Linked DNA regions of Homo sapiens. The protein of the gene in region 4 purifies or fractionates together with the protein of the main gene of each other region. This does not show direct contact. Each region holds a gene or a part of one and is shown on either strand. Other genes may lie near its edges. The genes, in order: DCTPP1, AARS1, TWF1, CIAPIN1, NMD3, YJU2 and GDA.

What was found.
Region 1: the proteins of CIAPIN1 (region 4) and DCTPP1 fractionate together in Homo sapiens (co-fractionation; one large-scale study listed by BioGRID). This does not show direct contact.
Region 2: the proteins of CIAPIN1 (region 4) and AARS1 fractionate together in Homo sapiens (co-fractionation; one large-scale study listed by BioGRID). This does not show direct contact.
Region 3: the proteins of CIAPIN1 (region 4) and TWF1 fractionate together in Homo sapiens (co-fractionation; one large-scale study listed by BioGRID). This does not show direct contact.
Region 5: the proteins of CIAPIN1 (region 4) and NMD3 fractionate together in Homo sapiens (co-fractionation; one large-scale study listed by BioGRID). This does not show direct contact.
Region 6: the proteins of CIAPIN1 (region 4) and YJU2 fractionate together in Homo sapiens (co-fractionation; one large-scale study listed by BioGRID). This does not show direct contact.
Region 7: the proteins of CIAPIN1 (region 4) and GDA fractionate together in Homo sapiens (co-fractionation; one large-scale study listed by BioGRID). This does not show direct contact.

The regions. Positions count from the first base shown.
Region 1 is NC_000016.10:30,426,899-30,432,106, forward strand, and holds the start of DCTPP1 (dCTP pyrophosphatase 1), read right to left. Parts: upstream 3,133-5,208; 5' UTR 3,083-3,132; coding exon 2,982-3,082; exon of another isoform or gene 2,957-2,981; intron 2,903-2,956; exon of another isoform or gene 2,691-2,902; intron 2,270-2,690; coding exon 2,159-2,269; intron 1-2,158. UniProt on the Homo sapiens protein: Hydrolyzes deoxynucleoside triphosphates (dNTPs) to the corresponding nucleoside monophosphates. Has a strong preference for dCTP and its analogs including 5-iodo-dCTP and 5-methyl-dCTP for which it may even have a higher efficiency.
Region 2 is NC_000016.10:70,282,423-70,286,904, reverse strand, and holds part of AARS1 (alanine--tRNA ligase, cytoplasmic), read left to right. Parts: intron 1-4,120; 5' UTR 4,121-4,141; coding exon 4,142-4,285; intron 4,286-4,482. UniProt on the Homo sapiens protein: Catalyzes the attachment of alanine to tRNA(Ala) in a two-step reaction: alanine is first activated by ATP to form Ala-AMP and then transferred to the acceptor end of tRNA(Ala). Also edits incorrectly charged tRNA(Ala) via its editing domain.
Region 3 is NC_000012.12:43,796,159-43,800,640, reverse strand, and holds part of TWF1 (twinfilin-1), read left to right. Parts: intron 1-110; coding exon 111-206; intron 207-1,138; coding exon 1,139-1,243; intron 1,244-2,055; coding exon of another isoform or gene 2,056-2,076; intron 2,077-2,807; coding exon 2,808-2,933; intron 2,934-3,188; coding exon 3,189-3,339; intron 3,340-3,543; coding exon 3,544-3,665; intron 3,666-4,482. UniProt on the Homo sapiens protein: Actin-binding protein involved in motile and morphological processes. Inhibits actin polymerization, likely by sequestering G-actin. By capping the barbed ends of filaments, it also regulates motility.
Region 4 is NC_000016.10:57,433,291-57,437,772, forward strand, and holds part of CIAPIN1 (anamorsin), read right to left. Parts: intron 3,443-4,482; coding exon 3,366-3,442; intron 923-3,365; coding exon 754-922; intron 1-753. UniProt on the Homo sapiens protein: Component of the cytosolic iron-sulfur (Fe-S) protein assembly (CIA) machinery required for the maturation of extramitochondrial Fe-S proteins.
Region 5 is NC_000003.12:161,241,811-161,246,292, reverse strand, and holds part of NMD3 (60S ribosomal export protein NMD3), read right to left. Parts: intron 3,786-4,482; coding exon 3,640-3,785; intron 1-3,639. UniProt on the Homo sapiens protein: Acts as an adapter for the XPO1/CRM1-mediated export of the 60S ribosomal subunit.
Region 6 is NC_000019.10:4,263,626-4,267,361, reverse strand, and holds part of YJU2 (splicing factor YJU2), read right to left. Parts: intron 1-3,736.
Region 7 is NC_000009.12:72,151,815-72,156,296, reverse strand, and holds part of GDA (guanine deaminase), read right to left. Parts: intron 1-4,482. UniProt on the Homo sapiens protein: Catalyzes the hydrolytic deamination of guanine, producing xanthine and ammonia.

The DNA.
Region 1 (5,208 bases), about 27 Mb from region 4:
CCATGTTGGCCAGGCTGGTCTTGAACTCCTGACCTCAGGTGATCTGCCTGCCTCGGCCTCCCAAAGTGCTGGGATTACAGGTGTGAGCCACCGCACCTGGACCTTTTTCGTTGGGTTTTTTTTTTTTTTGAGACGGAGCCTTGCTCTGTCGCCCAGGCTAGAGTGCAGTGGCGCGATCTCGGCTCACTGCAAGCTCCGCCTCCTGGGTTCACGCCATTCTCCTGCCTCAGCCTCCTGCGTAGCTGGGACTACAGGCGCCCGCCACCACGCCCGGCTAATTTTTTTGTATTTTTAGTAGAGACGGGGTTTCACCGTGTTAGCCAGGATGGTCTTGATCTCCTAACCTCATGATCTGCCCGTCTCAGCCTCCCAAAGTGCTGGGATTACAGGTGTGAGCCACCCCGCCCAGCCCCTTTTTTGTTTTTTTTTTTTAAGGCAGAGTCTTGCTCTGTCGCCCAGGCTGGAGTGCCATGGTGTGATCTTGGCTAACTGCAGTCTCTGCCTCCTGGGTTCAAGCGATTCTTGTGCCTCAGCCTCCTGAGTAGCTGGGATTACAGGCGCCCGCCACCATGCCTGGCTAATTTTTGTATTTTTAGTAGAGACAGGGTTTCACCATGTTGGCCAGACTGGGTCATCACCTTGTGTTCTTTTCCTCATAGAACTTGTCATAATTCCAGATCTTCTAATATGAGATTACTGATTTACTGTCAATCTCCTTCCACTGTGAAGGTGGAAACCTTTCTGCCTTGTTCCAGGCCATATCTCAATTCTAGAAGACCTAGCACATAGGTGATGTTCATAAATCTGTCATGAGGCCATGTGCAGTGGTTCAACCTGTAACCCCAGTGCTGCGGGATGGTGAGGCAAGTGAATCACTTGAGACCAGGAGTTTGAGACCAGCCTGGGCAACAACAGCGAGAGATCCCATCTCTACAAAAAGTAAAAATAAATTAGCCAGGCTTGGTGGTGGCGCACGCCTGTAGACCCAGCTACTCCGAAGGCTGAGGTGGGAGGATCGTTTGAGCTCCTGAGGCTTCAGTGAGCTATGATCACACCAGTACACTCCAGCCTCAGCAACAGAGTGAGACCTTTTCTCTTAAAAAAATGACTGTCCTGGTCTAGGGCTCATCGCCTCTTGCCTGGTCTACACCAGCCAACTCTCTGGTGTCCCCTGCCCCATTCTCTCAGTGATCCATCCAATCCACCCTGTAGACACAGTGACCTTTCCAACACTCATATCTGGTCAGGTCTTCTGTCCAAACTCTCCATCATACTCTAGCCCTAATCATATCTTTGTGGGTTCAACTCCCACCCCTCTCCTCCACAGCCCTATCACTCATCCAACGTGTGCCTATTGAGCGCCTACTATGCGCTGGGCACTTGGGACACATCAGAGAAAACAGATCCCAAATCCCTGATTTTTCCTGAGATGCTTACAATGAAGGAGCGTCAGATTCTCCCTGAATTGAACTTGCCCTTTCTTGCCTCACTGCCCCTGCAAATGTAGTTCCCATGTCTGGAATGCCACAGGCAGGTCCTCTACAGAATACCTTCCTTTCAGCCCCAGAGGCAGAGGAAAAGGGTTGTTGGGCCAGGCGTGGTGGCTCACCCCTGTAATCCCAGCACTTTGGGAGGCCAAGGCGGGTGGATCACCTGAGGTCAGGAATTTGAGACTAGCCTGACCAATATGGTGAAACCCCGTCTCCACTAAAAATACAAAAATTAGCCAGGCGTGGTGGGGGGCACCTGTAGTCCCAGCTACTCGGGGGGCTGAGACAGAACTGCTTAAACCCAGGAGGCGGATGTTGCAGTGAGCCGAAATTGAGCCACTGCACTCCAGCCTGGGCGACAGAGCGAGACCCCGTCTCAAAAAAAAGCCAAAAAAACAAAAAACAAAAGAAGGGAAAAGGGTTGTTGCCACTGCTTCTTCCTAGACGGGACCTGTCCTGATGCTTTCACACCTCACACCTCTCTCTTCCAGGAGGCTGAGTGCCCCTAGAGGGCAGGGACCCGTGAGTCCTCTCTGCATCCCAACAACAGCAAAGAGCCTAGCAATCAGGAGGGGAAACTGAACCCATGAATGTTTGAAGACCAAATAAATGCTCCCCTCCCCTCCCCCACAACTCAGACTCTACCAGGAAGCTTTCCATCTACTCACAAGAGTTCTGCCAGCTCCCCCACTTCCCCAACCAAGGCCAGGAGGAGATTCCGAGGCTGATGGAACTGTTCCCAGTCTCGTTCCGCAGCAAACTCAGCATGGAGGCGGCGGCTGAAATAGGACAAAGGAGTGTAAGTCCAAGTCTCCGGGTTAGAGGGTGATGCAGGGGCCAGAGGCAGCTACCCCCGTAGTATGTAATGGGGCCTGGGACCAGGAGATTCTGCAACTAATTCATTGGATGGTATTGTGCAGGTCATTTCCTCTTTCCGGAACTTGGTTCCCTCATCTATAAAATGGGCGTGCCCCTGAACTGCCCTTAACATCTCGCCAAAACTAACAAAACCCTCTTCATTATTCCATCTCCTGCTGCTACTTCTGCAGTTTCCTCCACCTGGAATCGCCGCACATCAAAATGCAATTTCTCTTACAGAAGGTAGTTCCACAGACCCTTCCTCTAAGAAGCCTTTCTTGACCTCCTCCAGCAAAAAATAACGTCTCCCACCTCTCAGCACTTCGTTTGCCCCTCTCGTACCCCCGGCGCCTGGAGAGCAGAGGCGGTATCTGGTGCCGGTATCTTCCCAGGGCTAGGCTGAAGGGCGTTCCTAGTTACCACTCGGAGGCACCACCCAATTTCCCTTGCCTCAGGTGTGCACCGCTGCGCCCATTTTGCAGATGAGGTAAGAAGGCTCACCCAGGGACAGCCCACAGAGCCAGGACCCGAGCCCCGCTGCCAGCCCGCTTCCCGACCACGTGGAGGAACCCTCCCCAAAACGCGGGAGAAAGGGGCGACTTCCCCACCCCGAGCTGGGCCAGGCCTGCTTACATGTCCTCGAGCGTGGGCTCCGGGCTGAAGCTGAACCGGCCGGGAGCAGCAGTGTCCTCTCCCCCCGTGTCCCCACGAATCTCCCCACCGGCCACAGACATGCCGCCCACCGCTGCACCGCGACTTCACGGAAAACCCACGAGCCACGCTCGAAGCCCCGCCTCCAGAGCTCCGACCAATTACGGGAGTTCTCTATTGCCTCACGGGGCGGAGCCTGAGGAAAGAGACCAATGACTTTTGTGGAGTTTGCTACAGCCCTCCCCTTCCCTCACTGGACCAATCTGAGGGAGCTTCAAGCGCGCGTTTCTAGTCTTAGGCCCTGGAATTCTTCCGCTAGGCCCTGTGTCTAAAGGTAGAGGTACCAATTCGACCTGGGGAAGAGACGAAGGGCAGAGGGTGGGGGAAGCGCAGGCGCGTCACTTCGTTTATGGGCGCCAGAGGGCGCCAAAGCGAAACGGCAGCGGAAGAGGGCCCGTCAGGTGGAAAACCCTATAAATGAAAGGCCCTATGCATAGGTATTAAATCAGGGCTTAAGGACGTTGAGAAACCTCGAGGCCAACCCCCACACTATTTGGATGGGATTGAAGGGGAAGAGCGGAGTAAGATCAGACGGCAGTAGGACTTCAGCTCCCCGCCATCGCTGTGTCCTGTGGTTGAAACGATGGAGGTCGCCCCATCCCTGTCCTAAGGGAGGCAGTAGGCCCCAGCGCAACGTACATTGCCCTGAAACACGTGGCCCCTTATGGTCTGGCCTGTGCCGGCCTCTCCAGCCTCATGGGTCCCCAGCACGGCTCCTCCACCCCACACACGAGAACTCCAGGCTCCACTCACACCAGGGAATACGCGAGGTGGCGAGTCACAGGGTTGCTGCTTTCAAATCAGAACCACTGAGTTATTGGCCATGGGAGGAGCAGAGATCTTTATGAAACCCTAGAACAGGTGTAGTCTTGCAAAGAATGATTTATTATTGTACCCTTATTAGGGCTACTATCTCTGATTTCCACGTTTAAAGAGGCTTCCAGCTTGCTGGAAGTGAAAGCGTAAGAAAGCGCAGGAAGAGGCAGAGTCAGATTTTGGAAATTAAAATCCCAAGGCTGTGACAATTGCAATTCTAGGTATATGCCCTAGAGAAATTAATGAATATGTGCAGAGAGACACATGCAAGAAGTTCATTACAGTTTTGTTTCTAAGAGTGAAAAAAATTGAAAATAAAATGACTATCAACGGAAGAATGGCTACATGGAAGTATATTTATACAAATGATATTATCCAGCAGTTAAGATTGGATACATGCAACAGAAACAAGTTTAAACTGCTTTTAGCAAGAAAAAGAAATCTATTATTTTTATTTTTTAAATTTTTTATAGAGACAGGGTTTCACCATGTTGCCTAAGCTGGTCTTGAACCAGGATTGCTGGATTGGGCTCTAGCAATCCTCCTGCCTTGGCCTCCCGAAGTGCTGGGATTACAGGCACGAGCCACCCCCACCGGCCACAAGGAATTTATTGTAAGGATACAAGAGTGTCTCCAGAATACAGTGGGACCTCAGGAATGAACTGGAACTGGGGTGGCTGTTTTAAGCATTTTACATATTTAATCCTCATAGCAACTAATTTAATCCTCACAAAAACCCTATATGGTAGGTAATATTGTTGTCATCCCCATTTTAAAGATAAGGAAACTGAGGCCGGGCGCGGTGGCTCACGCCTGTAATGCCAGCACTTTGGGAGGCCGAGGCGGGCGGATCACGAGGTCAGGAGATCGAGACCATCCTGGCTAACACGGTGAAACCCCGTCTGTACTAAAAATACAAAAAATTAGCTGGGTGTGGTGGCGGGCACCTGTAGTCCCAGCTACTCAGGAGGCTGAGGCAGGAGAATGGTGTGAACCTGGGAGGTGGAGCTTGCAGTGAGCCGAGATCGCGCCACTGTGCTTCAGCCTGGGCGAAAGAGCGAGACTCCGTCTCAAAAAAAAAAAAAAAAAAAAAAAAAAAAAGATAAGGAAACTGAGAGGTTAAATAACTTAACAGCTAGTAAAGTGGTAGAGCTGGCGTCAAATCCAGGCAGTTTGGCTTCACAGTCTGTTATTAGACCCTATGATGTATTGCCTGAAATGGCGATAAATATGAAAAAAATAAATGTAACTGTATTTTAAATACTATGAAAGGCTGGGCGTAGTGGCTCATGCTTGTAATCCTAGCACTTTGGGAGGCGGAGGTGGGCAGATC
Region 2 (4,482 bases), about 13 Mb from region 4:
ACCTCAGGTGATCCACCCGCCTCGGCCCCCCAAAGTGCTGGGATTACAGGCGTGAGCCACTGTACCCGGCTGAAAATTTTCTGTTGCCCAGGCTGGAGTGCAGTTGATCTTGGCTCATTGCAACCTCTGCCTCCCAGGTTCAAGCGATTCTCCTGCCTCAGCCTCCCAAGTAGCTGGGATTATAGGTGCGTGCCACCACACCCCGCTAATTTTTTGTTGTGTTGTATTTTTAGTAGAGACAGGGTTTCACCGTGTTAGCCAGGATGGTCTTGATCTCCTGACCTTGTGATCCACCCGCCTCGACCTCCCAAAGTACTGGGATTATAGGCGTGAGCCACCCTACCCGGCCTCAAAAATTTTTTTTAAATACAAAAAAATTAGTCGGGTTTGGTGGCACATGCCTGTAGTCCTAGCTACTCCGGAGGCTGAGGTGGGAGGAACACCTGAGCCTGGAAGGCCAAGTGATTGCACCATTGCCTGCGCTCCAGCCTGGGTGACAGAGAGGGAGACCCTGTCTCAAAAAAAAAAAAAAAAAAAAAAAATTCCTGTGGAGTGGCTGGAGCCACAGCGTGATTTAAGGCACCCAAGACCTTTACAGCTCCTGTTAGTAAGTGAAACCTGAGGTTCTGCCTTTGTGCTACCTCTGTATCCCATATAGCCCTCCAGTGAATAAATCAATGAGTTTATGTTGAATAAATATATTGAATTTATATCGAATAAATATAAATTTAGATTGAATAAATAAATGGGGGTAAACAAATGAATGTGGGGATACAGCTTTTAATAGTTTCAGCCTTCATAGACTCATAGTTAATATATTCAGTCCTTTTACACAATACTGCAGTTAATTCTGCATATGATAGTCTCCTCAGGAAGGACATAGGCTGTCATTCATTTTGATTCTTGGCACATAGTATGCATTCATTATGGTGAATTAGTAAGCAAAAATGGGAAATTCATGTGTCTTTTGGAAAGTAGCTGGAGTCAGGATCTCCTGTTCACTTTGTACATCTCTATTGTATTTTCCTCATAAGGAGAAAACTTTGGCTGGGCATGGTGGCTCATGCCATCCCAACACCTTGGGAGATTGAGGCCAGGAGTTCGAGACCAGCGTGGGCAGCATGGCAATACTCCATTTATAACAAAAACAGAAATTAGCTGGGCGCGGTGGCTCATGCCTGTAATCCTAGCACTTTGGGAGGCTGAGGCTGGCAGATCACCTGAGGTCAGGAGTTCGAGACCAGGCTGAGGAACATGGTGAAACCCTGTCTCTATTAAAAATACAAACATTAGCTGGGTGTGGTGGCACTTACCTGTAATCCAGGTTACCCAGGAGGCTGAGGCAGGAGAATTGCAGGAACTTGGGAGGTGGAAGCTGCAGTGAGCTGAGATTGCGCCACAGCGCTCCAGCCTGGGCGACAGAGTGAGACTCTGTCTCAAAAAAGAAAAAAAAAGAAATTAACTGGGCATGCTGGTGTGCAACTGTAGTCCCAGTTACTTGGGAGGCTGAGGCAGGAGGATTACTTGAGCCTCGGAGTTTAAGGCTGCTTAAGTGATTGTCCCACTGCACTCCAGTCTGGACAGAACCAGAAAAAAAGAAGAAAACTTTCAGCTAAACAACTTAAAAGTAATATTATCCATTCTGTTCCTTCAAGGTTTTCCTTTTTTTTTTTTTTTAGACGGAGTCTCCCTCAGCCACCCAGGCTGGAGTGCAGTGGCGCAATTTCGGCTTACTGCAACCACTATTTCCCAGGTTCAAGCGATTCTCCCATCTCAGCCTTCTGAGTAGCTGGGATTACAGGCACTCGCCATCATTCCCGGCTAATTTTTGTATTTTAGTAGAGATGGGGTTTCACCATATTGGCCAGGCTGGTCTTCAACTCCTGACCTCAGGTGATCCACCCACCTTGGCCTCCCAAAGTGCTGGGATTACAGGTGTGAGCCACCGCACGTGGCGTAACGTTTTCCATTTTATAGATTGCTTCCAAATACAGTATAGCTTTTGATCCTCACAACACCTCAGTTGAGTAGGCAGGGTAGATACTGCTTTTTTACAGAAAAGGAACTGAACTCAGGCAAAAGTGAATTAAGGTTACGGTTGGGTCTGGAATTCCAGAGACTTTTTGATAATAATGATAATATTGTGAATAAGATGGTTCTCATTTTTCTAGACACAGCAGTTTGTGGCACTACAGCACCATGCCAGTGATCAGCACTCTCACCAAAGCCTGTCACTTCTCCCCAGCCTACCTCTCAGGGAAATCGTAATATCTGTGAAAGAGCTGTTTTTGTTTTTGTTTGTTTGTTGACACAAGGTCTCTGTCGCCCAGGCTGGAGTGCAGTGGCATGATCTTGGCTCACTGCAAGCTCCGCCTCCTGGGTTCACGCCATTCTCCTGCCTCAGCTTTCCGAGTAACTGGGACTACAGGCGCCTGCCACCATGCCCGGATTATTTTTTGTATTTTTAGTAGAGACGGGGTTTCACCATGTTAGCCAAGATAGTCTTGATCTCCTGACCTCGTGATCCGCCTGCCTCGGCCTCTCAAAGTGCTGGGATTACAGGCGTGAGCCACCGCGCCCGGCCATTTTTGTTTTTTTTGAGACGGAGTCTTGCTCTGTCACCCAGGCTGGAGTGCAGTGGCGCGATCTCGGCTGACTGCAACCTCCACCTCCTGGGTTCGTGCCATTCTCCTGCCTCAGCCTTGTGAGTAGCTGGGACTACAGGCGCCTGCCACCACGCCCGGCTAATTTTTTGTATTTTTTTTCTAGTAGAGACAGAGTTTCACCATGTTAGCCAGGATGTTCTGGATCTCCTGACCTCGTGATCCACCCACCTGGCTAATTTTTTTACTATTTGTACTGACAAGATCTTGCTATGTTGCCCAGGGTGGTCTCAAACTCCAGGGCTCAAGCAATTCTGCCACCTCGGTCTCCCAAAGTGCTGGGATTACAGGCGTGAGCCACCGCGCCCAACTTGTGAAAGAGCTTTGAAGTCATAAAGTTTTTTCTCTCTCCACCAGTTCCCTTGTACTTTCACTTTCAGTAAGCTGTGCCTCCAAAGTGGGGCTACAGCATCCCCACTCCCTGGTAATCTAATGGCTGGAAGGCAGCCGTTTGCTGTTAGGGTTCTTGGGGGATGTAGGCTACATAGAGGTAGGTACATTCCTGCTACATACAGGTGGTCCCTTGTACAGATAGGCCCATCCCCAGGACTATTGCTGCTGACAGCCGCCTCACCATGACATCAGGCCAAACCTAGAGACCCTGACTTTGGGGCTAGTGGAACTTTGCAGTTCTAGGCGTGTACATTAACACAGAGCTGAAGGGATCTTTAGAGATAATCTCATATGGACCCCTCCTTTTTTTGGTGAAGTGACTCCCTCAGGACTTGAAGCTAGAACTCAAACCCCGGTCTCCTGAGCCTCTCTCCCTCTTCCCCAGTTGGACTAAACTGAGGGTTTTTCTCCCCCTTTTTTTCTTTTTTTTTTTCCTTCTTTTTTTGTTTTTTTGAGACGGAGTCTCTCTCTGTCGCCAGGCTGGAGTGCAGTGGTGTGGTCTTGGCTCACTGCAACCTCCACCTCCTGGGTTCAAGCGATTCTCCTGCCTCAGTCTCGCAAGTAGCTGGGATTACAGGCACGCACCACCATGCCCAGTTACTTTTTGTATTTTTAGTAGAGATGGGATTTCACCATGTTGGCCAGGCTGGTCTTGAACTCCTGACCTTGTGATCTGCCCACCTTGCCCTCCCAAAGTGTTGGGATTACAGGCGTGAGCCATCGTGCCTGGCTGTCCCTCTTTTTTTCTAATTCCTAGTCTCGGGCCTGACACAGAGCAGATGCTCGATACATATTTGTTTAATGAACAAACATCCAGCAGCAGTGTGCTTGGTGTGCTGGGGTGTTGAACCTCTTGAGGTTGGCATGGGAAGGAAGAACAGATGGGGCTGCTGTCTGCTGGTGATGATGATTTTAGCCTTGGACATTACAACATAGAGGTTTTAGGATCAAACAGCTCACCTGAGTCGTGCTTTGACTTGGCTTGAGAAGCCAGAAGTCTTGTGTAATGTGTACTTTGACTTTCAATTCCCTTAATTTTCCTTCATTTTTTTTTCTTTGATTAGTTCTTTGGGGTGACTTTCAAGATGGACTCTACTCTAACAGCAAGTGAAATCCGGCAGCGATTTATAGATTTCTTCAAGAGGAACGAGCATACGTATGTTCACTCGTCTGCCACCATCCCATTGGATGACCCCACTTTGCTCTTTGCCAATGCAGGCATGAACCAGGTAAGGGTTTTTCCTTTTTTCTTGGCTTTTGGTTCACATAAGAGGCAGCAGAGCCCAGATAAAAGCACAGCCCTGGGGTCAGACCGATTCTGGTTCTGTCACTCCCTGTGTGATCTTGTGAAACTTTATGTGATGGGCCTCAGTTTCTTTGCAAAATGAGGAATAATATTGCGGGCCTGTAGGTATTAGTGAGAAGC
Region 3 (4,482 bases), on a different chromosome or scaffold from region 4:
CTCAGTTTTGTTTTTAATGTGATTCAGGATATTAATATATTCAGAATGTGCTTGCTTTTGTAATGTTATGTTTTCATCTATAAACTAAGTAAACTTTCACAACTGAATAGGTTCGTCAAAAAATGTTGTATGCAGCAACAAGAGCAACTCTGAAGAAGGAATTTGGAGGTGGCCACATTAAAGATGAAGTATTTGGAACAGTAAAGGTATTATGTTTGTATGTGGATTCTATATGTTGCAATTAAAATGATTAAAGAGGAACTCCTAGGTAATGGGTAATTGATACGAATTCAGATGGATAATCTGAAAACATGAGAATAAGAGAAATACTGTATTTCATATAATATTAAAGTTAGCTGTAATGAATATGTAACTTTGAGTTTATTCATTTGTATCTATTTGACATTGACAAGTGATATTGAAACATACTGATTCTTCTAAAGTATATGGTAAATATATGTATTTACACATATATACACAAATTGAAACACTGAAATATATTTTTGAACTTTTTTGTTTGTTTAGAGCTTTTCTGATTCAGAAAGTCATATAATCTAGTGGATAGAGCACAAGACTAGATGGGAATATATTGCTTCTTCACCATTAATTGTGAAGTGGGCTGGTTTCTTAATTTCATGAGTCTCAGTCTTCTAAACCACAAAATTTTGATGATAGGTAGACCTCTTTGTAGTATTTTTTTCTTTTGACATGAAAACTATAATAATTTTCCATGAATAATTACAAAGAAATTATATTAAGCATTATAACATAGTATTCAGAATCTGAATATGTTGATTATTGGATAATCATTGGGCAGTTTTCTCCAGAAGGTTAATTACAGTTGTCCTATAGACTTACAGGATGACCAGGTTCAGTATTTCACTTTGCCAGTATGAAACTCATACAAAATATTTAGTAATTATAAAGCTTCATATAAAATGAACAGTGGGTACTCCCCTTAAAAAGTTTTGAAACTTAAAATTGAGGATTAAAGAAAAGTAAAAAGATATTAAAATTCATAATGCTATTTATTTTCATTTAAAATCTTTTCTGTTAATGATTTTGTTTTTCCTAAAGTAACTTCACTGTCATTTTACTTCTAGAGAATTACTGATTATAGTCTATTCTGTACTTACAGGAAGATGTATCATTACATGGATATAAAAAATACTTGCTGTCACAATCTTCCCCTGCCCCACTGACTGCAGCTGAGGAAGAACTACGACAGATTAAAATCAATGAGGTAAGTTACAACTACAAAGTCTTTGCAAGATTTTAAGTGTTTGAAAATACTGTATTTTTAATTAATAGATGTGGGAGGATAACTAGAGATTAAAGAAGTTAGGTAGCTTAGGTTTATTCCGTTTAGTTTAGAGATAAGGCTATGTGCTTAATGCCTTTTCAGAAAAAAAAAGTTAAAATGAATATTAAACTTTATATGCATTTTATAAATAGCTTTTCCTATAATCTTCATGTCAGAATAGTAAATCTTCCTTTTGAAGTACAACTGTTGTGAACTTTGTACTTTGAATATTATATAGAGAAAAAGTGTGTGTTACCCATTTAGTGCAAAGAATGTATCTAATAAGGTTGCCTGAAGCAGATTATTGTTTTGTTGGCTTTCTAGAGAGTCTACAAATTAACTTCTATGAACTCTACTTGAATAGAGATATATATGGAAGATTATTATTTGAGTACCTGTTGAGCATATTAGAGTCAATAAATTTCAGCCATATTATTTTGTAGTTTATCATTATTTTTAATGTGTTTTCTACAGCCATTCTAACATACTGGAATAACTACTGTATTTCTACTGGGACTTTACAGAAAAGAACAAGTGGCTGAAACCACTATTCATTAGCTGAAACCACTGTTCATTAGCCTGAGTCACAGACAGTAGGAATCAGTCTGGAGAATGGTTGAATATCATTTAATATTAAACTGGTAGCAAGGATCTATCATATTATTTTAATTCATATTATTTGAGTAGGGCTTTTTATGTGATTTTTTTTTTTTTTTACGAGTTTGATAGTTTGTTTTATTTCTTGCAATCAGAGCCCAGAGGATCATATTGGGGTATGCATTCGCATATGTTCTATGATGTTTTCATTAACCAATATCATTTATGCTGTAGAATCTCCATTCATTTTTTTAAAAGTAAAATTTCTATTGGACTTTCTGTTGCAACACTGCGAATGAGACTCTCTACTAGCTATCATTTATCAAGTATAAAAATCTTAAACATGTGCATTGAATGCTTTCTTATCTTTCTCCTCTTCCAGTACATGCACACCATGTTCTTAGTAAAGAAATCTCTTAAGTCTGGAACTTCTGCAGTAGTATAACTTGTTGAGCTGTGTTGTCTTTGTACACTGTTTGTACTCCTTTCAATTCAGTGCATGATGTTTGTGTTGCATTTTCTGTCCAACAGAACAAAGTAAAGTTCTATACATATTGTATGTAGATTGTTGTTTATAAATTCTATCAAGTAAAATTTTACAATCAGTGGTGTAATCTGATGACACTCTAAAGAAATTGTGCCAAACCAAACATAAAAACAAACCCACCCAAACCCCACTAACTGTACACTCATTCAAATGTTCACTTCCAACATTGTCGTAAAGATGTGTCATGCACTCTGCATGTTGACAAAATGCTAGCAGGACCGTAAACAAATGTGAAAAATAATTTTAATTATAGGTTGGGCTAGGGTTGAATGATACTATTTTATAGAGGTTGGGTTTTCTTATGTTTGCCATAGGATACTGCTAACTGCTAAACTTGTAAATTAAATCTGTCATACTTAGGTACAGACTGACGTGGGTGTGGACACTAAGCATCAAACACTACAAGGAGTAGCATTTCCCATTTCTCGAGAAGCCTTTCAGGCTTTGGAAAAATTGAATAATAGACAGCTCAACTATGTGCAGTTGGTAAGAGATGTATAATGATTATTAAGTGGCTGCTCTTTTTGGTAGTTTATGACTCATATAGGGTTTATTATTAATGGATTTTACATTTTAAATAGCTTTCTGATTTCTAAAATTCATTTTGTAAATGTTCATTGTGAAAAAGTCAAACCATCCAGAACTAAGTTCCTCCTTTATCTCTTGGTCTTTTTATTATATGTTTTAACTTAATTTCCTTATATCTGGTTTTAATGAACATATTTTGTTTCTTATTGGCAGGAAATAGATATAAAAAATGAAATTATAATTTTGGCCAACACAACAAATACAGAACTGAAAGATTTGCCAAAGAGGATTCCCAAGGATTCAGCTCGTTACCATTTCTTTCTGTATAAACATTCCCATGAAGGAGACTATTTAGAGTCCATAGGTATATGATACATTGTTTTTAACACATTACTTTCAGTTTGTTTATTGGTGTATCAGCCCTATATTCTTACTTATTTCTTGCCCAGAGGGCTTAGCTGTAGTTTTATGAAGTTTCTGTACTTGTTTTTATGAAGTTTATATATGTAGTTTTATGAAGTTTATGTATTGATATGCTAATTATATTTGTTATTATTTGAACTTACAGTTTTTATTTATTCAATGCCTGGATACACATGCAGTATAAGAGAGCGGATGCTGTATTCTAGCTGCAAGAGCCGTCTGCTAGAAATTGTAGAAAGACAACTACAAATGGATGTAATTAGAAAGGTAGCCCACCTATTTTAAAATCTTCAGTTTTTGCTAAATTTTTCTTTTCATTTCTATGTAGTTTATGATGTACTGTGATTTATAAATGAAAATATTTATTTTTCTTGTTATCATCCTAAATCCTTAGGATCTCCTCTAAGTGCCTGGGAACTACCTGTCATGATCCCCATCTCTATATATATCTGTACTTCCTAGTAAGCCACATGTGGCTATTTAACTTTAAATAAGATTTAAAGTTCTGTTTCTTAATTCCACTAGCCTTATGTCAAATTCTCATTAGCTAAATGTGGCTACTGGCTACCGTATTGGTTAGTGCAGAATTTATAGGACATTTCCATCAGTGCAAAAAGTCCTATTGGACAGCGCTGCCAGAGCTGCATACTTGTGATTATTTCTACTGCATATTAATAAGGAATTACAGTCTCCATTATGACTGAATTATGGGATGGTTGGGAGTCTTTCCAGTTTGGGGGAAGGAAGGAATAAGCATAAACATTTGAATTTTGGGAACTAAGCTACCAATTTTCTTAAATTTTCTTAAGTACAGATAAGGCATGGGGAAAGATATATATTCTTGAGCCCTTAAACTCATAAAAATACAGGTCCTTAAAAACTACCAGTGTTTTTAGGTTCTGAACCCTTCATGCTTTTTAAGTTCCTAAGAATCAATCACTTTATCATGGGTAGCACCTTCTATAGCAGGGATCAGCTGACTTTCTACAGAGGACCAAATAGTAAGTAAAGGCTTTGCCAAGCCACATATAATCTCTGTCATATATTCTTATTGTTGTTTAACAACCCTTAAAAAATGTAAAAC
Region 4 (4,482 bases):
CACAGCTGGATGCTCATACCTTCCACAAGGCCAACTGTTCTAAGCTATTCCTACCCATTCTGGAACCATGAATCGAAAGGTTAGATTCCAAAGGATTTCTTGAAGATTTAGGTTAGACAGTCAAAACCGTACAAGTGGGAATGTACCAGTAAATATCTGTTAATGTCTGCATACCTCACAGCTGGGTCAATTCAGGCATTTAAAAATAGGGATAGGAAGGATGAGGATGGAGCTGTGTGTGTGTGTGTGTGTGCGTGCGCGTGCGTGCACGCGTGTGCTTGTACACAATTTTCTAGTCAGAAGAAATATAGTTTTATAAGTGTCTTAGCATCCTCAAAGTAAGAACAGCTGATTTTCCTGGCATGGGGAAAAAAGCACATGAGAACAGGAACAGGGCACTCTCATACACCATTACCACTACACTGTGAGGTCTTCTGAGGAGAAACGTTAATTCTGGGACCTGGAAGGACCTCATTAATTAAACTGTGTGACTCAGTCCTGTAAAATTAGGAGGCCTCGGTATCTTCTGGTGCAGAAGAAGGAGCTGAACTAGATAATACCTATGTATTATTTCAGTTTTGGATCCTAATATGCCCATGATAATAGTACATTAAGTATTCTTCTTTGTGGAAATGGCAGAAATCAAAGGACTAATCCTCTAAAAATATCACCATCTCATTTATTGCTGGCTCAATTTCTAACATGTCCCTCTAAGCCCATTCAAACAGAAGAATGTCCCTAGGCCAGCCTTACCTGAAGGAGAAGACTTCTTGGTGATGGAAAGCTTAAGCTGCCTAGAAGAACCCACTTCAAAGTTTGGTTTTTTGCCTGTGATCTGAACAAACAGCAGGTTGTCACTTTCATGACCAAGGTGTTCTCGAACAGACTGTACTTCCTCAGGGGTTAGGGGCTCCCGCTGCAGCTAGAATTCAAGACATCAAAAGGATTAGTTCACCCTCCTCTGTAAAATGGTTTACTATGTCTACCTACACAGGAGTCAAAGACTCATTTCTGTGCATTAAGGATGTAACAGTGGATGGTAACAGATAACACTTTATGCCTCACATTCAGTTTCTCACTGATCAGAACCCTAGAGTATAACCTTTGTCTGCATGTTTACTTGGAGCCTACCCCTTGGAAAATGTAAAAGTACTTAAAAAACATTAGGGATGAGGCATATACTAGTTATTTGGGATGTAATACAATTATGAAAATGAACCAGATGTGGTCCTACTGTGTAACAGGAAAGAATGCCCACAATGAAGACAGCAGAAATTTATATCCCAAAAGAAAAAGGGGGAGGAAAATCCTTTCTATGTTCCTTGGGATAAAGTAGCAGAGAGTAAAGGTAGAAAAAAAGGGTCAGGGTGCCACCTCTATGTCCAATAATTATAGACTGGTTACATAAATCACAGTCCATCTATTGTATGGAATACTATTACATCATTAATATGAATGAAGGGAAATACACTGAAGTAGGTAAGTGTCTATGATATCTAAGGGTGGGAAAAAAGGTGATTGAACAATGTATACTTATGATCTTATTTACATTTTTAAAAAAGTATGTGCATGTAGATGCTTGTAAATACATAGGAAAAGGTCTGAACGGACATACAAAAAGGCATTGGTGGCTTCCTCTGGGGAGGGAAGTGTGAGCAAGAAGTGGGATGTCACTTTATATTCTGTATGCTTTGGTGTAAAGTGAATTTTTATGAGGAGTCTGATATAGTTTGGATATGTGTCCCCTCTAAATCTCATGTTGAACTGTAATCCCCAATGTTGGAGGTGGGGCCTGGTGAGAGGTGACTGGATCATGGGGGCAGATTTCTCATGAATGGTTTAGCACCATCTGAATTCTCATGAGATGTGGTGGTTGTAAAGTATGGCACCTTCCCCACCCCGACTCTTCCTCTCTTTCTTGATCCTGCTTTTGCCATGTGATGTGCCTGCTCCTGCTTCACCTTCTGCCACGAGTAAAAGTTCATTGAGGCCTCCCTAGAAGCCAAGCAGTTGCAGGCCCGTGCTTCCTGTACAGTCTGCAGAACAGTGAGCCAATTAAACCTCTTGTCTTTATAAATTATTCAGTCTTAGGTATTCCTTTATAGGAACAGAAGAATGGCCTAATACACATTCCTTATTTTAAAATCAAGCACAGAAAACCTTAAGCTAAAAGGAAAAATAAGAAAGGGTTGGCATAAAGAATCTAAGGCCTGGCATAAAGAATCTAAGGCCTGGCTCACGCCTGTAATACCAGCACTTTGGAAGGCCAAGGTGGGTAGATCACCTGAGGTCAGGAGTTAGAGAACGGCCTGGCCAACATAGCGAAACCCCATCTGTACTAAAAATACAAAAAATTAGCCAGGTGTGGTGGCGCACGCCTGTAATCCCAGCTACTCGGGAGGCTCAGGCAGGAGAATTGCTTGAACCCAGGAGGCGGATGATGCAGTAAGCAGAGATCGTGTCACTGCACTCCAGCCTGGGCAACAGAGCGAGACTGTCTCCAAAAACAAGAAAAAAAATTAAAAAACAAAGAATTTAAGGCCCTACATTATGTAAGAAATAACAGGCACAACAGCTATCATGCTGTAACATTTACCTCTCCCACATCCAAGAAAATTTTAAGATCAAAGAGTGTAGAAATATAAATACTTCTGCTTAATTTAAACATTTCCACTGAATTGTCAGAAAAGGAACTTTGCCCTCTAACCTATTCCAGCCTCCCACCAAAAATGTGAGGCTGAACTAGATGGCAGTGTTCACCCAGGCCTAGGATTCGGGTCTACTGAGAGGTGGGTGTTGGAAGCAGCAGAGCTGCTGCTCATGCCCCTCAGCTGTCACCACCACTAAACTAGTACCAAGGAGACAAGAACAAGCCCCAGCCCACATGGGCCAAGCTGAGTCTCTTTGAAGTTGGTTATTCTCAAAAGTTTTTTTTTGTTTTGTTTTGTTTTTTTTGAGACAGAGTCTCGCTCTGTCGCCCAGGCTGGAGGGCAGTGGCGTGATCTCGGCTCACTGCAAGCTCCGCCTCTCAGGTTGACGCCATTCTCCTGCCTCAGCCTCCTGAGTGGCTGGGACTACAGGCGTCTGCCACCAGGCCCGACTAATTTTTTTGTATTTTTAGTAGAGACGGGGTTTCACTGTGTTAGCCAGGATGGTCTCGATCTCCTGAGCTCGTGATCCACCCACCTCGGCCTCCCAAAGTGCTGGGATTACAGACGTGAGCCACCACACCCGGCCGATTCTCCCAAGTTTTGTCCTTTGAAGCATCATGTATCTTACATGCACAGCATTTCTTGTTTCCTAGTTCTAAGCAATACTGATTACCTCACCTGCAGGGCAGCAAAGAAAGTTGTCTACAAACGTACCTCTTTCACTTCCACAAGACCAGAAAGAGTCAGGGCTGAACACAGCTTAGATGCTGTCTTCACTTTGCTATTGTTATCTGCCAAAAGGAAAATCCCAATTAATAGCTTTATAGTTCAAAGTAGGAAAAATAATAAAGGCTCAATCCTATATGGGTTCGCAGGCATTCAAACAATAATAACCAGGTGGGCGTGGTGGCTCATGTCTGTAATCCCAGCACTTTGGGAGGCTGAGGTGGACAGATCACTTGGGGCCAGGAGTTCAAGACCAATCTGGGGCCAACATAGCAAAATCCCGTCTCTACTAAAAATACACACAAAAAAAATAGCCAGGCGTGGTGGCACACGCCTGTAATCCCACCTACTTGGGAAGCTAAGGCACGAGAATCGCTTGAACCTGGGAGGCGGAGGTTGCAGTGAGCCGAGATTGCACCACTGCACTCTTGCCTGCACAACAGAGTGAGACTTGATCTCAAAGAAAAAACAAAAAAAAAATAATAACCTATTCTGTTTAATGTACAGATGGTCCTTGACTTAATGATGGTTCTACCTATAATTTTTCAACTTTTATGATAGTATGAAAGTAATACTCATTCAGTAGAAACTGTATACTTCAGTTTTCAGTAAATTACATGAGATACTAAGCACTTTATTATAAACAGGCTTTGTGTTAGATGATTCTGCCCAACTGTAGGCTAACGCAAGTGTCCTAAGCGTGTTTAAGGTAGGCTAGGCTAACCTAAGCAATTGTGTTTAGTAGGTTAGATGAATTACATGCATTTTCATCTTAATAGTATTTATCAGGATGTAACTCCATTGTAAGATGAGGACAATTGTATATATATTTTAGTGATATTATTTTATTATTATTATTATTATTATTATTTTTGAGACAGGGTCTCACTTTGTCACCCAGGCTGGAGTGCGGTGGCATGATCTCAGCTCATTGCAGCCTCGACCTCCCAGGTTCAAGCAATCTTCCTGCCTCAGCCCCCACCAAGTAGCTGGGGTTATAGGTGTGCACTACCACACTGGGCTAATTTTTGTATTTTTTGTAGAGACGGGGTTTCGCCATGTTGCCCAGGCTGGTCTCGAACTCCTGGACTCAAGCAACCTGCCT
Region 5 (4,482 bases), on a different chromosome or scaffold from region 4:
CTCTAAAAGCATCTCAGAGAAAAGTTAAATACAATATTGATTTTTGGTTTTCTAATTTTTAAAGACAGAAAATTTTTTGTATTTTTCTGATGTATGAAACACTGTCAAAATTAACAAATTACTGAATCATGAGTATAGAAAGACTCACAAACAATTCATAAAAATAAATCATTGACTTTTTCTAAGATTTTATTCAAGACTTTTATAAAACATTAATAATGTCCCTAAAAATATATATATGTAGAATTTTCAAAAGAAATGTTTTCACAGGAAGATGGGCCAACATAGGCAGAGTGAACAAAATAACTGAAAAGGTAGGGGAATCTTAAAGCAAGAACGTATTCCAAGCAAACTCTTGCTTGACACAAGGGTTCAGAAAATCAGGGTCCAGACAAAACAGCCTAGAAATCCTGGTAGTAAACCACTAGAGAGGCCAAATCTTTATCAAATTAATTTTTAAAGTATCTACTAGTGTAGACTACAATCATTCTCTACATCTGCTATATATAATATAGTACATCTGCTATATATAATATATATATAGCAGAAACAACATCCCAATTTTTAAACTAGAAAACTATTAATTCCCTTTCTAACATGCCAACACCTTTAACAACAAAGACAGACCAACTGAAGTGAGATCGAGAGAAAAATACTAAGAGTTATAAATAAAATTAAGGAATCTCAAAATAAAGTTATGAAAAGAATCAAGTGTTTCTTATTGCAGTTGGTCAAAGAAAAAGAAATGAAAAAAATGAAAAGAAATAGAGCAGAAGGAGAAACTGAAATAAAAGACAAGTCTCAAACTTAAGAACTGCAAAAGAAAAGTCAATTAACAGGGAGACTACATTTTATTTAACAGGATTTACTTTCTAGCTATTAGACTTCTGCTTGTAAGAAATTTATTAACCTCTTCTAGCTATTTTTTAAAAACCAAGAAAATACAGTATCTGGTTTTATATCTGCCTGAAGGGAAATGATACTCTACATTTATTATAAATGAAAAGTTTGCCCTAAGTACATTACCTTAATTTATAAATAAAATGTAGAATGTCATCTGTCTTCCATTTCCATTAATTTTTCCCAAATTATCACAAGTTATTTTTGTCTCAAGAAGCATTATTAGCACGCACACACACACACACACACAAGGGTACCCTGGGAGTCTCTAGATACTATTTCACAGTAAAAGAAGCCAGACTTTCATCTTTGAAGAAACATTTGATTTCAGATATGGGTTATAAACTATACATGTGATTCTGGAACACCTGAATGCTGTGTTGCACCAGAAATCAAGGATGCTTTCAAAGACCAGGAGAGTCACGTCAAAACAACATAGGAACCATTCTGAAGGGGCTCCCATTGAATAAATTTAGGGCAATATGAGGATTTCAAAAAAAAGAAAGGGCAGGCGCTCATGCTCATTCCTATAAGGGAGGCAGTAGGATCGTTTGAGACAAGCCTGAAAAAACAGTGAGATTGACTCTACAAAAAATTAAAAAATAGAAATGAGACAGGTGTGGCAGCATGCTGAGGTGGTAAGATCACTGGAGCACACAACCTCAAGGTTCCAGTGACCTATGATCATACCATTGAACTCCAGCTCTGAGAGACAGAGTGAGACCTTGTCTCTTTAAAAAAAAAAAAAAAAAAGGAAAAGAAATGAAGGGAGAGGAGGAGAGAAGAAGAAAACAAAAGAAAATACAGTAAATGATACAATACTTATACTTCAGGAGATCACAATGATAATCACAAAGAGAGACACCACCTGTACATGTAAGCTAATTTTCACCACTGGAAATGATTCCTAGATCAACTCTTTACTCTAAAAATATTTGCTAAAAGAATTAATAATTTATGCATAGGCCAGGGGAGGTGGCTCACGCCTGTAATCCCAACACTTTGGGAGGCCAAGGCAGGAGGATTGCTTGAGCTCAGGAGTTCAAGACCAGCCTGAGTAACATGGAGACCCCATCTCTACAAAGAAATTAAAAAATTAGCTGGGCATGGTGGCACATACTTGTGGTCCCAGCTACTCAGGAGGCTGAGGCAGGAGGATCATTTGAGCCCAGGAGTTTGAGGCTGCAGTGAGCTATGAAGCCATACCGCACTCCAGCCCAAACAACACGGCAAGATCATGTCTAAAATTAATTAATTAAAAGAATGTATGCAGGCGAGCATTTCAGGAAAGCTACATAACCCCTAGTTAATAATGAAAAGCTCTTCTTTAAGAATGACAGCTAGTAAATGTAGAATAGAAATAGAAAATTCACCATTTTGTAACCCTGAATAAAATAATTAATTTATGGGCAAGAATTATCAACAGATGCTAAAGCCAGAAAAAAAAAGAGGTAACAGGAACTCAGTACTTGCATATTATTATAGTATTAAGCCACAGATTGCTTGCTGGTCAGAAGGAAAAAAAATCATAACATTACAATGGAGGAATCTGACTATCACTATGTTAACAAGTGAAACAGTCAGACATTACTTGTCTCTTGATATAATAAAAAGTACATGGCATCATCTCTGAAATATTCTGGCAAGAAAAATTTAACCTAAATGTAACCAAACCTTTAGATCAACTTTCCAGTTTAGAGGAAACACAATGAATTAAGAAGCTAGTTAAATGGCATCATGAGGAAACAATTAGATAGATTTAGAAGGTGGAGTATTCTACAAGATAAATGCACTAGTTGTCTAAGGAAGTTGGTATCATAACCAATAAAAGAAAAAAGAAGGGGACTATTATTAAATAAAAGACTAAAAAGGTATAATATTCCCATTTAATGAGTGGTCTCCAATTGAATACCTGTTTGAACAAGGCATAAAAGACACTTTTGGGACAAATGAGGAAATCTGAACACAGTAATCCCCCCCTTATCCATAGTTTCCCTTTCAAAGTTTTCATCTGCCCACAGTTAATCGCTATCCAAAAACAGGTTGGTGGAGTAGAATTAGATAACTTTAAGAAAGAGACTACATTCACACAACTTTTATTACAGTATATTATTATAATTGGTCTATTTTATTATTAATTATTGTTAATCTCTTACTGTGCCTAATTTATAAATTAAACTCTATCATAGGTATGTATGTATAGGAAAAAACAATACACATAGAGTTTGGTACTATTGTGGGTTGTTTCAAAAATCCACTGGGGGTCTTGGAATGTATCCCCATGGATAAGAGCAGAATACTGTGTAGACTGTATGTTTTATAGGTATGGTAACAACATTTTCATTATGTAGAAAAATATTCCTGTGTGTGAGAGATGCACACTGAAGTATTTAGTATTTGGTGATGACTTTTTAAAAGTCAAGATAACCACTACAAAAATAAAGGTCCTCCTCTATAAAAATAAAGCAAAGAAATGCCTTTTTTAAATATAATGGAATAAACATTTAAAAGATTTTTCCTACACAAAAGAGAATAAATTAACTTAACAGTCTAAGTCTAACAATTTCCACAATGACCACATATTAAAAAGACAAAAAAAAAAAGAATTTTTTTCCTAATGTGGTGCTAAGTTTGGATTCCATACTGTGGAAACACCAACAAATTTTTTTTAAAAGAGGGACTGAAACAATAATAACTGAGGGGAAAAAAAAATACACTGGCAGGCAGGATGTAGCTTACCTTTTTTGATATCATTCCAGCACCTGCAGCACGTTTTATATCTTGGACTATGCTGCATTCCATCACAATAAACTCCTCTAGCTGTTTGGGATGACATAAACTATTGAAAGGGTGACTCCAGAAAGTGCTCCCATCAATATCTGCCACTAAAAATAAGGATAGAACACAAAAACATAAGAAAAATTATATATTTCAATTATCAAATGTATTAACTAAGAATAAACTGGTAGATACCAACTGGGAAGTGGCAGGTCAACAGAACTAGTGTCAACTCACTCCTTAGGGTCATCAATTACTCCTATAAACCAATCCCAAACTTCTCAAAGCACAAGAAAAATATATCAGATGTCAAACATATCTTAAATAGTTACTATAACCAGAATGCCACAGGGCTAAGTGCCTCTTAAGTAAGATCAGAGCCAATCAGTGGTACAGCTGTTTCACGTGCTGGCACTTTATTTTAGAAACGTATCTGTCACCTTAGCTGCTTAGTTTATGGGAAATAAAGCCTAGTTCTACCAGATAGGTAAAGAATGTCCATCCCAATATTGCTAACAGATCTTTAACTTATGAATCCTAACTGATAAAGATAATGAATGACTTTGAAAAATATCAAAATAAACTCACTTTTTGTATAAAGGAAACTTATATTACAGAAAATACATGAAAAAGATCAAGCAGAAGATACATCCAAATACTAAGATACCTACCAAAATGTGGTCTTCCTTAAAAAATAATTTATTCTATAGACAATGTTAAAAAATGATCTACAGTAATAACAAAATTGGTTAAAATTCATATTCAAACTAAATGTTCCAATGGGCCACAAAAAGCCAAATGTTC
Region 6 (3,736 bases), on a different chromosome or scaffold from region 4:
TGCTATTCCCTTCACCAGGGATGCCCCCTTTTCCATGCACTCGCTTGGTGAACTCCTACTCACCCTTCAATACCCAACACAAGACACCCCTCCTCTGAGAAGCCCATCATGGTTCAAGCTCACATGCAGGCTGCATGTCCACGCTCACAGTGCCCTCTGCTGGCTGTTATAACTCTCTCCCCAACTCTGCCGTGAGCTCCTGTCTTCCCCACTGCTGGCTCTGCGGTGCCACAAACAGTTCCTGGCACAAGGAGGTGCTCAATGTACTTGAGAGAACGAGTGAAAATGGAGGAAGCCGCCTTGAGAAAGAGTTAGGGGCAGGTAGAAAAGGCCTCCAGCTCCTTAACTGCAACAGAAGGGACCCTTTAATCTATATTATTAAAAAAATTTTTTTGGGGGGAAGGTCTCACTCTATTGCCCAGGCTGGAGTGCAGTGGTGCAATCATAGCTCACTGCAGCCTCGAACTCCTGGGCTCAAGCGATTCTCCTGCCTCAGCCTCCTGCAGGTGCACGCCACCATGGCAGGCTAACATTTTTAATTTTTGTAGAGACGGGATCTCGCTATGTTGCCCAGGCTGGTCTCAAACTCCTGGCTCAAGCGATCCTCCCGTCTCAGCGTCCCAAAGAGCTGGGATGACAGGCGTGAGCCACTGCATCTAGCCTCTTCAATCTGTTTTATGTTTAAATAGAGGAAGTGGTAACCACTGGGTTAAGGAAGTCCCAATGGGTGCTCTGCCCTCACGGAGCTCACCGTGTGGGGAGGGAGAGGGACAAGGAGACCAATACCCAGGATAACATCCATCTGGGTGAGAGAGAAGCCAGGGTGCGTGAGCTTGAATTGTGAGGATGAGCTTCTCAGAGGAAGGGCGTCTTGCATTGGGTATTGAAGGGCGAGTAGGAGTTCACCAAGCGAGTGCTTGGCAAAGGGGGCATCCCAGGTAAGGGGAATGGCATGGGTAAAGGCGTGATGAGAAGCCACAGTGTGATTCAGGAAGTGCCAGGGCAGGCTAGGTGGGATGGAGAATGGGCAGAGACCTTGAGTGCCAAGCTGACGGTGTGAGGGGCGGCCACTGCTAAGGTGGTGGAGAGGCCTCCTTAAAGTTGTGGCTCTGGGCCGGGCGCAGTGGCTCATGCTTCTAATCCCGGCACTTTGGGAGGCCAAGGCAGGTGGATCACGAGGTCAGATAGAGACCATCCTGGCTAACACGGTGAAAGCCCGTCTCTACTATAAATACAAGAAATTAGCCAGGCTTGGTGGCACACGCCTGTAATCCCAGCTACTCGGGAGACTGAGGCAGGAGAATCGCTTGAACCTGGGAGGCAGAGGTTGCAGTGAGCCGAGATCGTGCCACTGCACTCCAGCCTGGGTGACAGGGCGAGACGCCGTCTCGAAAAAAAAAAAAAAAAATGTCGTAGCTCTGGGCTGATGTCAAAATGAGGAAAAGAAGTCAAAAGGCACAGATGGCCAGGCACAGAGGCACACACCTGTAATCCCAACACTTTGGGAGGCCGAGGCGGGTGGACCACTTGAGGTCAAGAGTTCGAGACCAGCCTGGTCAACATGGTGAAACCCCGTCTCTTTATTAATAAAAAGAAAATACAAAACCTAGCCAGGTGTGGTAGCACACGCCTGTAATCCCAGCTACTCAGGAGGCTAAGGCAGGACAATTGCTACAGGCTGGGAGCCGGAGGTTGCAGTGAGCCGAGACCGTGCCACTGCACTCCAGCCTGGGCGAAAGAACAAGACCGTCTCAAAAAAAAAAAAGTTACCTAGGTTAGTTCCCAAACCTGTTTCTACAGGTGGTACTCATCATCATTAAACTAAACTAAGGATTGGGAGGCCAAGGCGGGAGGACTGCTTGAGGATAGGAGTTTGAGACCAGCCTAGACAACATACAGACTCGCCTCTAAAAAAAAAAAAAGAAAAGAAAATTAAAAATTAGCTGGCTGTGGTGGCACACACTACACACTTGTGGGTCCCAGCTACTTGAGAGGCTGAGGTGGGAGGATCATTTGAGCCCAGGAGTTGGAGGCTGCAGCGAGCTGTGATCGCGTCACTGCACTCCAGCCTGGGTGACAGAGCAAGACCTCATCTCTAAAATAAAAATAAAATAAACCAAGAAAACGCAAGTGTGGAGATATTCCTTCCTATAAAAGTTAGGGTGAAGGTTTGAAAAGTCTTGATGAAGGTGAATCACGTTAAAACCAAATAAAACACCTGCTATCAAATCAGGTAGAGGCACAAGACTGAGGGAGTAAATCAAAAAAGGTTGGACTGCTTTCAAAGTACCTTTACTCTGTTGATTCATTCAAAAAAAAAAGAAAAGAAGAGAGGAAGTTGTAGACAATGAATTCTGGGAGTGGTTTATGTGAGAACCACAGTGTGAGAACTCTAATCAGAGGACACAGCTTCAAAGAAAATGTCTTTTAGAAAAATGTCTTGGGGCCAGACATGGTGGCTGATGTCTGTAATCCCTGTGCCTTGGCGGGAGAACTGCTTGAGGCCAGGTGCGTGAGACCAGCCTGGGCAACACAGCAAGACCGCATCTCTGCAAAAAGAATTTGAAAAATTAGGGGCCAGGCACAGTGGCTCACGCCTGTAATCCCAGCACTTTGGGCGGCCGAGTCAGGTGAATCACCTGAGGTCAGGAGTTCTAGATCAGCCTGGCCAACATGGTGAAACGCCATCTCTACTAAAAATACAAAAATTAGCCGGGCATGGTGGCAGGCGCCTGTAATCCCAGCTACTTGGGAGGCTGAGGCAGTAGAATCGCTTGAACCCGGGGGGCGAAGGTTGCAGTGAGCCAAGATCACACCACTGCACTCCAGCCTGGGCAACAAGAGTGAAACTGTCTAAAAAAAAAAAAAGAAAGAAAGAAAAGAAAAATTAGCCAGGCGTGGTGGTGCGTGCCTGTGGTCCCAGCTGCTCAGGAGACTGAGGTGGGAGGATTGCTTGAGCCTAGGAGGTTCAGGCTGCAGTGAGCTGGGACTGCATTACTGCACTCCAGCCTGGGCAACAGAGTAAGACCCTGTGTCAAACAAACAAACAAAAAAGGAAGAAAGAACAATCGTTTCTTTTTTTTTTTTTTTTTTTTTTTTTGAGACAGAGTCTCGCTCTGTCGCCCAGGCTGGAGTGCAGTGGCACAATCTCGGCTCACTGCAAGCTCCACCTCCTGGGTTCACGCCATTCTCCTGTCTCAGCCTCCTGAGTAGCTGGGACTACAGGCGCCCGCCACCACGCCCGGCTAATTTTTTGTATTTTTAGCAGAGATGGGGTTTCACCGTGTTAGATAGGATGATCTCGATCTCCTGACCTCGTGATCCACCCGCCTTGGCCTCCCAAAGTGCTGGGATTACAGGTGTGAGCCACCGCGCCCGGCCGAGAACAATCGTTTCTGTGTGTCTGTGTTATTGGTTTATGAGCCCCTACTTTTACCACCTTCTTCAATGAACAAACCAGAGTGGCTGAGGCCACCTTGGATGAGTCAGCTGTGGTGGAAAATGCTGGTCATCCACCAAAACTCCTTCCTCCTTTTTTTTTTTTTTTTTTTTGAGATAGAGTCTCACTCTGTTGCCCAGGCTGGAGGGCAATGGCACAATCTCAGCTCACTGCAACCTCTGCCTCCCAGGTTCAAGTGATTCTCCTGCCTCAGCCTCCCGAGTAACTGGGATTACAGGCAGGCACCGCCATGTCCAGCTAATTTTTGTATTTTTAGTAGAGACAGGGTTTCTCCAT
Region 7 (4,482 bases), on a different chromosome or scaffold from region 4:
AGAACATTGGGTCACTCTTTTCACCAGGGCTATATAATCCTCTTTTGCATGTTCCAGTCCTAAAAGGTCCAATTCAGCTACTACTTCCTTCAAGAAGCTTTTCCTATCACTGGTCAACTTGTGCCCCACTGTACTATTTACACACATTTACATACATTTTGCGATCACTCTTGATGCACTTACCTTCCAACCTTACATATGTAAGCTATCATCAAATCCAGTCAACTTGATCTAAATAGCTACTGATTCTATCCACCTCTCCATCTGCATTACTGACAATAACCGCTGAAGTCTAATGGACATGTACTACATGCCAGGCATTATTCTATATATTTTACACTTACTAATCCATTTTATCCTTTCAACAACCCTATTAGGTAGACCATAGTAATTATTTTATGCATAAAGAAATTTGGAGATACAAATGGTAAGGAACTTGATCAAATTCACATAGGTAATAAGTGATAGAGGTACTCTTAGGAGTTCATATCTCAGTTGATAACTACACTGCCTCTCTCATCTAAACCACATTCCATTTTACCTAAATACTGCAACAGGCTCCTATCTGACCTCCTTGCCTGCACTCAACTTCTCTTCAATGCATTTATCCTGAAGTTAGACCTTTATAACCACAAAATATAATCATGACACAATCCCACCATCCCCGATGCCCTCCATAACATAGCCCTGCCTACCTGTCCTGCCTTATCCTGTGTTAGCCTTCTCCTCAACCTTTGGACTCTGACTACCTTGACTGTTTCATTCCTTCCTACCCCAGGACCTTTGCACAGGCAGTCACAGGCAGTTCTCTCAACCTAGAAGGCTCTTCTTTACTTCCAATGCTGTCCACCTTACCTATTGGTATGGTTTGGATGTGCCTCCATCCAAATCTCATCTTGAATTGTACTCCCCTAATTCCCACATGTTGTGGGAGGAACCCAGTGGGCGATAACTTGAATCATGGGGGCAGTTTCCCCCATACTGTTCTCATGGTAGTGAATAAGTCTCACGAGATCTGATGGGTTTATCAGGAGTTTCCGCTTTTTCATCTTCCTCATTCTCTCTTGCTGCCGCCATGTAAGAAGTGTCTTTCACCTCCTGCCATGATTCTGAGGCTCCCCAGTCATGTGGAACTGTAAGTCCAATTAAACCTCTTTTTCTTCCCAGTCTCAGGTTGTTTTTGTCACCAATGTGAAAATTGACTAATATACCTACTTAACTTCTCATTGTTCACATCGCAAGTTTGATGTCACTTCACGCTAGGGAAAGCCTTCCCCTAACTAGTTCAAGTTCTGATAGGTCATGGCAGATTCTGTTAATTTATTACTAGATCATCAGTTTCAAGAGGGCAGGGCAGTATTTGCATACTTTGTTCATCAATTTATCTCCGGTGAAAACCCCAGTGTTTGGCTCAGGAATGAGTCACTTTTATTACAGCTACAAGTCTTAGCTCCCGTGCCAAAGTGCAGATTCTTTGAGGTCCAGGACTGTGCCCTAGAGAAGCAGTCAGCGACAGTAAAGAGAACATGGCCTTTGCCCCATACTAATTCAAAATCCAGCTACACCACCACCGTATCTGAATGCATGACTTCTCAAGTCTCAACTTCCTCATCTGTTAGTGGAAATAATGACATTGTCAAGTCTAAAAGAGATACTAAAGATAGCTTGCTAGTGAATCTAGCACCAAATGCTTCTTGATCTTTCTTCCAGGGTGCATCTTTGGGTCCCAGGGGATCAATGACATAAGCAGTGAGAATAAAAAGCTAAGGTTCTGTGACCACCCCATACAGTTCATCACAGGCCGTGGCTTCCTTCTCTACCACTTGGCATGTCACCATGTGAAAACATGCAAAATATCACAGTGAGCAAGAGGTTAAGGATTTGCTAGGAGGCAAAGGGAATAGAATGAACATGGTACATGTTAAGTATCCACTAAGTGCCAGGCATTTTCATACATTATCTCATTTAATAAATAGCAAAAGGAAATCTGACTCTACAAATGAGGAAACGGAGGCTCAGGCAGGTTAGGTCTCACCTGTGGTCTCAGCACAGGTAAGTGGTAGAGACTCTGACCTGAACCCAAGTCTCTATTCCTCCATTGGACTTGCTCCTGCCACCCCAGGACACAACCTCAAAATGAATCTCTTCCTCACTCTTGTTTCTGGGTAAGTGTGCATTAAAAGGCCCAAGGCATGTTTATGCATCTTTACTGTCAACCTGACCCTGATGTATGTGGGAAGAATCAGGCAACTTAGTAATATTTGAGCATGCATTACCTCAAGATTAAATATTTGCAAATGAATTAAACATGTTAGAGTCTATATTTTTTTTTTATTATACTTTAAGTTTTAGGGTACATGTGCACAATGTGCAGGTTAGTTACATATGTATACATGTGCCATGCTGGTGTGCTGCACCCATTAACTCGTCATTTAGCATTAGGTATATCTCCTAATGCTATCCCTCCCCCCTCCCCCCACCCCACAACAGTCCCCAGAGTATGATGTTCCCCTTCCTGTGTCCATGTGTTCTCATTGTTCAATTTCCATCTATGAGTGAGAACATGCAGTGTTTGGTTTTTTGTCCTTGCGACAGTTTCCAATTTCATCCATGTCCCTACAAAGGACATGAACTCATCATTTTTTATGGCTGCATAGTATTCCATGGTGTATATGTGCCACATTTTCTTAATCCAGTCTATCATTGATGGACATTTGGGTTGGTTCCAAGTCTTTGCTATTGTGAATAGTGCCACAATAAACATACGTGTGCATGTGTCTTTATAGCAGCATGATTTATAGTCCTTTGGGTATATACCCAGTAATGGGATGGCTGGGTCAAATGGTATTTCTAGTTCTAGATCCCTGAGGAATCGCCACACTGACTTCCACAATGGTTGAACTAGTTTACAGTCCCACCAACAGTGTAAAAGTATTCCTATTTCTCCCCATCAAGCTACCAATGACTTTCTTCACAGAATTGGAAAAAACTACTTTAAAGTTCATATGGAACCAAAAAAGAGCCCGCATCACCAAGTCAATCCTAAGCCAAAAGAACAAAGCTGGAGGCATCACGCTACCTGACTTCAAACTATACTACAAGGCTACAGTAACCAAAACAGCATGGTACTGGTACCAAAACAGAGATATACATCAATGGAACAGAACAGAGCCCTCAGAAATAATGCCGCCTATCTACAACTATCTGATCTTTGACAAACCTGAGAAAAACAAGCAATGGGGAAAGGATTCCCTATTTAATAAATGGTGCTAGGAAAACTGGCTAGCCATATGTAGAAAGCTGAAACTGGATCCCTTCCTTACACCTTATGCAAAAATTAATTCAAGATGGATTAAAGACTTAAACGTTAGACCTAAAACCATAAAAACCCTAGAAGAAAACCTAGGCATTACCATTCAGGACATAGGCATGGGCAAGGACTTCATGTCTAAAACACCAAAAGCCATGGCAACAAAAGCCAAAATTGACAAATGGGATCTAATTAAACTAAAGAGCTTCTGCACAGCAAAAGAAACTACCATCAGAGTGAACAGGCAACCTACAAAATGGGAGAAAATTTTCACAACCTACTCATCTGACAAAGGGCTAATATCAAGAATCCACAATGAACTCAAACAAATTTACAAGAAAAAAACAAACAACCCCATCAAAAAGTGGGCAAAGGATATGAACAGACACTTCTCAAAAGAAGACATTTATGTAGCCAAAAGACACATGAAAAAATGCTCATCATCACTGGCCATCAGAGAAATGCAAATCAAAACCACAATGAGATATCAGCTCACACCAGTTAGAATGGCAATCATTAGAGTCTATATTCTTAAAAGCTACATGCTACTTGAGCAGAAAGTATAACTCTGTATTTTGCTTTATACCAAAAAGTTGGCTAGATAATTTCTTTTAATTAACCTGCTTTTGAATGAGCTTTAATTTAATGTATTAAGAGCAGTTAGTCATTGGCATTCTCTGGGCCTAAACGAAGTTATACAAAATAAGGAATAAAGTTTAAAAGCGAGACCAGAAGGACAGAGTAAGCTTTGTGCCCTCTCGCTGAGATTCTACCCCAGATCTAAACTTGCAATGGAGAAATAAGCTCCTGATACTTCACACAGCTTGTCCCATCACAGAAACTATGTGTTACAGTTATTCAAAATGTAATCCACCCGCTGCTATAATCCACCCGCTACCTGCGTCTGAATCTCCTGGGATGCTTGTTGGAATGCCACTTTCTGGGGCCTACCCCAGGTCTATAGATTCAGAGTCTCTGAGGATGATGCCCAGAAATCAGCATATTATCAAGCACCCCTAGATATTTCTGATTCATTGCAAGGTTTGAGCTCCTAAAAATTTAGGAGTAAAAATTTACAGATCATTGGCCGGCGCGGTGGCTCACGCCTGTAATCCCAGCACTTTGGGAGGCCGAGGCAGGGGGATCACGAGGTCAGGAGATCAAGACCATCC